Linked DNA regions of Homo sapiens: region 1 is linked to region 2. Evidence: fine-mapped expression QTL. A gene starts in region 2. The other region holds a variant in brackets. All regions are shown on one strand. Distances are from middle to middle.

The links. PIP is the estimated chance that this variant, and not a neighbour inherited with it, causes the effect.
Region 1: its variant is fine-mapped to the expression of DMKN in whole blood (TOPMed, PIP above 0.99). The same link has a PIP of 0.9 or more in blood mononuclear cells.

Annotation. Positions count from the first base shown.
Region 1 is chr19:35,481,799-35,484,703 of GRCh38, forward strand. No RefSeq gene overlaps it. Among named protein-coding and RNA genes, the nearest start is that of KRTDAP, 7.2 kb to the right of the region's middle. The variant G/A (reference allele first, on the strand shown) is at 1,502.
Region 2 is chr19:35,512,088-35,514,992 of GRCh38, forward strand. It overlaps DMKN (dermokine), which reads right to left and starts at 1,562. Exons shown (of 16, transcript NM_033317.5): 1 at 963-1,562; 2 at 503-703; 3 at 334-390. The coding sequence starts at 1,388.

The sequences.
Region 1 (2,905 bases), 30 kb before region 2:
TTTCCACGATTTATCACCCTTTGTTAAAACGGTATATGAGCCTCAAGCCTGGCCACTTCTTTAGGTTTTCACTTCTTTTCTGTGAAGCTCCTGGATGCATGCATAATAAGCCTTTTCTCCTGCTAATCTATCTTTTGTTAATTTTTTTTTTTAAGATGGAGTCTCACTCTGTCGCCCAGGCTGGAGTACAGTTGTGTGATCTCGGCTTACTGCTACCTCTGCCTCCCAGGTTCAAGCAATTCTCCTGTCTCAGCCTCCTGAGTAGCTGGGACTACAGGCATGCGCCACCATGCCCAGCTAATTTTTGTATTTTCAGTAGAGATGGCGTTTCACCATATTGGTCTGGCTGGTCTCGAACTCTTGACCTCAGGTGATCCACCTGCCTCGGCCTCCCAAAGTGCTAGGATTACAGGCATGAGCCACTGTGCCTGGCCTCTTTTGTTAATGTAATTAGCATGCCACAGCCACTGAACCTAAGACAGTAGAAAAAAATGTTTTTTTCCTTCCCTACAGATGCTAGCCTACATTCATTATTTTATTAAATTTTGAAAAACGAAAATATTCTATTATTTCTTTTGCATTTATTAGTTTCAAATTCTCGTATAAAGAAAAATTGTGCCAGCTGGGCATGGTGGCGCATGCCTGTAATTTCAACACTTTGGGAGGCCAAGGCCAGAGGATCACTTGAGGTCAGGAGTTGAAGACCACCCTGGGCAACATAGCAAGACACCCATCCTACAAAAAATTTAAAAATATACCAGGTGTGGTGGCTTGTGCCTGTAGTTCCAACTACTCAGGAGGCTGAGGCAGGAGGATTGCTTGAGCCAGGGAGGTGAAGGCTGCCTCCAGCCAAGATCATGCCACTGCACTCCAGCCTCGGTGAAAGAGCAAGACGCTGTCTCAAAAAAAAAAAAAAAAAAAAAAGAGAGAGAGAGAGAAACTGTTTACCCTGAAGTATATAGTTCATAGAGGAAAGTAAGGATGAATCCTTGATTCATTTCCTTTATTTACCAGTTTTTTAAATGAGTTGATTCCCAGAAGCCTCCCAAAGTAATCACTTAGTTTGGCTTTGGTTTTTAGTCCCTTTATGTCCTGGCTGAGTATGACAGGGACTTTTTTTTTTTTTAAGTTCATTTATGAATGCCAAATTCAAAGTTACTTTCCCCAGTTTTCTTACCCTGGTGCAAAACTATCTCCTCCCTTCTGTCAGATTTAAACATATCGTTCTAAGGTATCTAGTGCCTTCTCCCTGGATGCTTCCTTTATCGTAAGTATCAACTGGATCATAACTCCTTGAAGGCCTTCTGCATAGCACTCAACATCATGCCCAAGGCCGTGCTTCTCAAACGTTATTCCACATGTGAATCATCCAGGGGCAGGGGTCTTGTTAAAATTCTGATGCATTAGCTCTGGGTGAGCAGAGCTTCTGCATTTCTAGCAAGCAAGCACCAAGTGATGCTGATGCCGCTGGCTCGGGGACCACACTCTGAGTAGCAAAAGG[G/A]TGTGGTAAATGTGAGAAATCAGTTTCATTCATTCAGTTAAGAGGCACCTACTCTGGGTCACTGCATGGACTAGGCCCTACCACTTTACAGTGCAAAGCGTTTTTTTGGTGTTTGTTTGCTTTACTAGAAAGTTTTGATTTTAATTTATTCTTTTGAATATGTAATTTGCACATGGTAAAACATTTTTGTTCATAAAATCCAAAAGGGTACACAGTGAAAGTATCTAACTTTTCAAAAGTTATCACTGTTACTTCTCAAGTTTTATTCCAGATAATAGCAGATAATATGCAGATAATAGCATATATTTGTACCATATCTTTATTTTAACCACATGGCAGCATAATGATCTGCCACTTTCTTTTTTTCATTTTACTCTATCTTGGAGATTGTTTCATAGCTCAGTGTATATCTCTACATCCTGTTGAACAGATGGTATAGTATCCACACAAGATTCATTTGTTGGCCAGGCATGGTGGTTCACACCTGTAATCCCTGCACTTTGGGAGTCCAGTGCAGGCGGATCACCTGAAGTCAGGAGTTCAAGACCAGCCTGGCTGACGTGGCAAAACCCCATCTCTACTAAAAATACAAAAATTAGCCGGACATGGTGGCGGGCACCCATGTAGAAGATGTAATTCCATCTTCTCAGGAGGCTGAGGCAGGAGAATCGTTTGAACCTGGGAAGCAGAGGTTGTGGTGAGCCAAGATTGCACCACTGCACTCCAGCCTGAGCAACAGAGTGAAACTCCGTCTCAAAAAAAAAAAATGCATTTGTTATTGTTTTTATAAAGTATAAAATGAAGAGTGACTACTTCCTGCCTTTTATTAAATAAAGGTTATTTAATAAGATTTGCTTATGCAGATTCAAGTCTCCAGTGTTGAGTTATCTCCTCTACCTGATGGGAAATGTACAGGTCATCCCCAGGGAGAACAGGTGCTATGTCTTCCATTCTTTGAATCCTCTGAATGGCCTGACCCATGTTTGTGCATTTTGTCAATTTCACATGATCTAGCTAGTATACATCTGTCACTCATGTGCACAGCTTGTCTACACTTCACTTTGTCTTTTTCTTTTTGGTTCAGATTGCAGTCTCTCTAGACTCCAATTGTTTCTTGACTGTGTATTCTGTCAGCACTTGCAAATTGATCTGGTGTTCTCTGGCTTTAATAATATGTTATTGTGAAATACAACATGCATAGGTGTGCATAAAATGTACATATTTAAAGAAGAAATGAAACATGATATAGAAGTGGCTTCTGTCACACACCGTCCCCCCTTATCTCCTATGTGCCACTCTCCTATCACATGGGATCTCTCCATCTAAGGGGCAACTACTATCCTGATTCTGGGTTAATCTTAAGTTCTCTGACGTTCCTTTTTGAAGTGGTTCTCAGACTTTAGT
Region 2 (2,905 bases):
CCCAGGTTCAAGTGATTCTCCTGCCTCCGCCTCCCAAGTGGCTGCAATTACAGGCGCATGCCACTATGACCGGCTGATTTTTGTATTTTTAGTGAAGACAGGGTTTCACCATGTTGACCAGGCTGGTCTTGAACTCCTGACCTCAGGTGATCCACGTGCCTTGGCCTCCCAAAGTGCTGGGATTACAGGTGTGAGCCACCTCGCCCAGCCCCATCTCTTCCTCTCACCCCAATCCCTCCACTCCCCCATCTTGCTTTCCTCTTTGTCTTTCCCCAGCTCTCTGTAGCCTGCACCCAGTGGCTTCTTCATTTGTTCCCAGCCCCTTCCTCTTACCCCTTCATTCTGGTTGCTGGCTCTCACTGAACCATAGCCAGGCTGGGCCACAGCTCCCTGCAGAGAGGGTGAGACTGAGAGTAGGATCCAGAGGGACCAGGGAGGCACGCGGAGCATGTGGGCTTGGAGGGAGGGAGGTGGCAGGTAGCAGGTCTGGGGGTGACTTTACCTGAGTGTTGGTCCCAAAGTTTGGTGGCCCTCCATTGCCTCCTTGACCCCAGGGAGCTCCCTGAGGATTCATTCCAAAGCTGCCTGCTGAGTTTCCGGGGTATCCGTGGACCCACGGAGTCCCCAGACCTCCAGGATTGCCCTGGCCCTGGCCTCCAAGGCCACCTTGAGAGCCAAAGATGCCATGGCCTCCAGAAGTTTCCTGCAAGAACAACATACCTGCACTTAGTGGGACCATCTCTGACCCTGGTAGAGAAGAGCCAGGGCAAATCATAAAGAGACCAGGAGAGAGACAGGCAGAGGGACTCCAGGGTGGCATAGGAGGGGGGCAGAACATAGAAGGAAGCTGCCCCAGAAGCCTGCAAGTAAGAGATCCATCCATCCTTTCAACCGTTTCCCAAGAATCTCAGCCCAGCAGCCCACAGCCTCCCATTTCCACATGCAGCCCCACAGCCACTCACCCAAGCACCATTGTGGCCAGGCACCCCCTGCCAGGAGCCGCGGACAGCATCTGCTCCGTGTCGAATGACATCTTCTGCCTGTCTGCCAATCTCGTGCCCAGTGTTTCCCAGAGCATGGGCTGCTTCCCCGACCCTGTTGCCCAAAGCATCTGCTACGCCAAAGCCTGGAACCTGCCTGACTCCAGTGCCAACTGCTTCTCTGGTCCCTTGGCCAAGGGCCTCACTGACTTTAGAGCCAGCTGCCCCTCCGGCCTCTTTGCCAATGGCCTTTCCCACCCCTTCGCTCAGGGCGTCTCCCAGGCCATGTCCAAGGGCCTCCCCAATATTTGTCCCAGTGCTTTCCTCTCCGCTCTGCAGGGGGCCAGCCTCCCCACTGCCCAGGCAGAGGGCCAGCAGGAGGCAGGCCAGGGGCCCCTGGAACTTCATCTCTGCCCAGCCCCCTCTCTCTCCAGAGTGTCTTCCTCCCACCAGGGTCTCCTCCTTGCCGCCCTTGCTCTGCGTCTCTGTGCCCTCCTCTGTCCTCCTCCTTCCGACTCCCTGTCCTCCCTCCCTCTGGGTCTGCAGCCTTCTCTCTCCTGTCCTCAACTGCCTGGGCTTCTCAGAGTCCACCTCCCTGTCACTACTCCTTATACTCTAGGTTGGGAGAAGGTGACAGGGCTGGGCAACCTGAGGTCCCTCCCCGCAGTGACTCAGGGCCCAGCCACCAATAGGGTAATCAGCTGTTATTGTGAGTCTGAGAGTCTCTGTCGAAACAGAGAGTGAGCCGCATCAGGGAGGGAGGGAGAAATGGATGAGGTGATGCAAAAGTGCTCCCATTTCCCAACCCCAGGCATTCGGGGAGCTGGGTGGGGGCAGGGGCATCTAAGGAGACAGGTTGTCGTTGGCTCCTGGAGGCGGTGGGGTGGGGGCAGACTTAGAAGAGAGGAGTTACTGGCAGGACCCCACCAAAGGAGTAAGGACAGGGAAGCCCCAGGGGACAGGACCCACCCAGGCTCAGCCAGCCTGGCTCAGGGGCTCCAGAGTGACAGGCATTGCCCGTCCTCGGCCTGGCCTTTCTCGGTTTCAGCACCTCAGCCTCTCCTCTCCCTCTCCCCTCCCGCATTGCCACCTACAGGTGACTGCCTTCTTGTTCCTCCACACCTTCCAGCCCACAGAGAGAGACTGGCAAACACGGGGCTGCGTGTCAGTTTCTGAGATTCTGGGGAGAGCCCCCGGGGGGACCCTCGGTGTCGGGGAAGGAGGTGGCCATAGCCCTTTGAGTGGTCAGCAGGGTGTCTCAGCGTTCAGGCTGCTCCCGGCTGAGAAAGCTGGGCGCGGAGCAGGGCAGCCAGGCGCGCCAGCCACCCCCAGGGAACGAGTGGGAGGGAAGGCCAAGGGAGGGAGCCGCTGACCCAGGCACCCATCCTGTTTACGCAGCCCTAGAGGGGCACGTGTGAGTATAAGCGCCTATGAGGGGCGGGACTGGGCCAGCTCACCCCACCCATCCCCCAGGCCAGGGGCCAGGGCAGCAATGGCAAGCGAGAAGAGGGTAGCGCAAGGTCAGGAGCCATCCGTGAGAGCCACGGCCCTCTCCCCAGTCCCAGCTCGGGATACAGAACCTGGGAGCCTCCCCCCGCCTCACCCCTGCCCAGCAAGTGTGGCTGCTTCTCTATTCCCAGGGGCCACAGGGCCTCCCACTGTTTCGTATCACTGGGGTTCATCGCCCAGTTAGGAGGGGCCAGTTTCCATCAGCCTTTCTCAATGTCTCTCAGTCAGTCTCTCTCTTCTCTCCACCCCAATATCCGCACCCCAGCTTATAACATCCAACACTTCTTACCTTGTAAACACTATCCCCATCTGTCCTCCTCAGCTCCTACTTCCCTGTTATTCCATCTCTGACTCGTTAATGATGATAATAGCGATGGTGGTAATAATAATAATAATAATAATAATAATTACAGCTC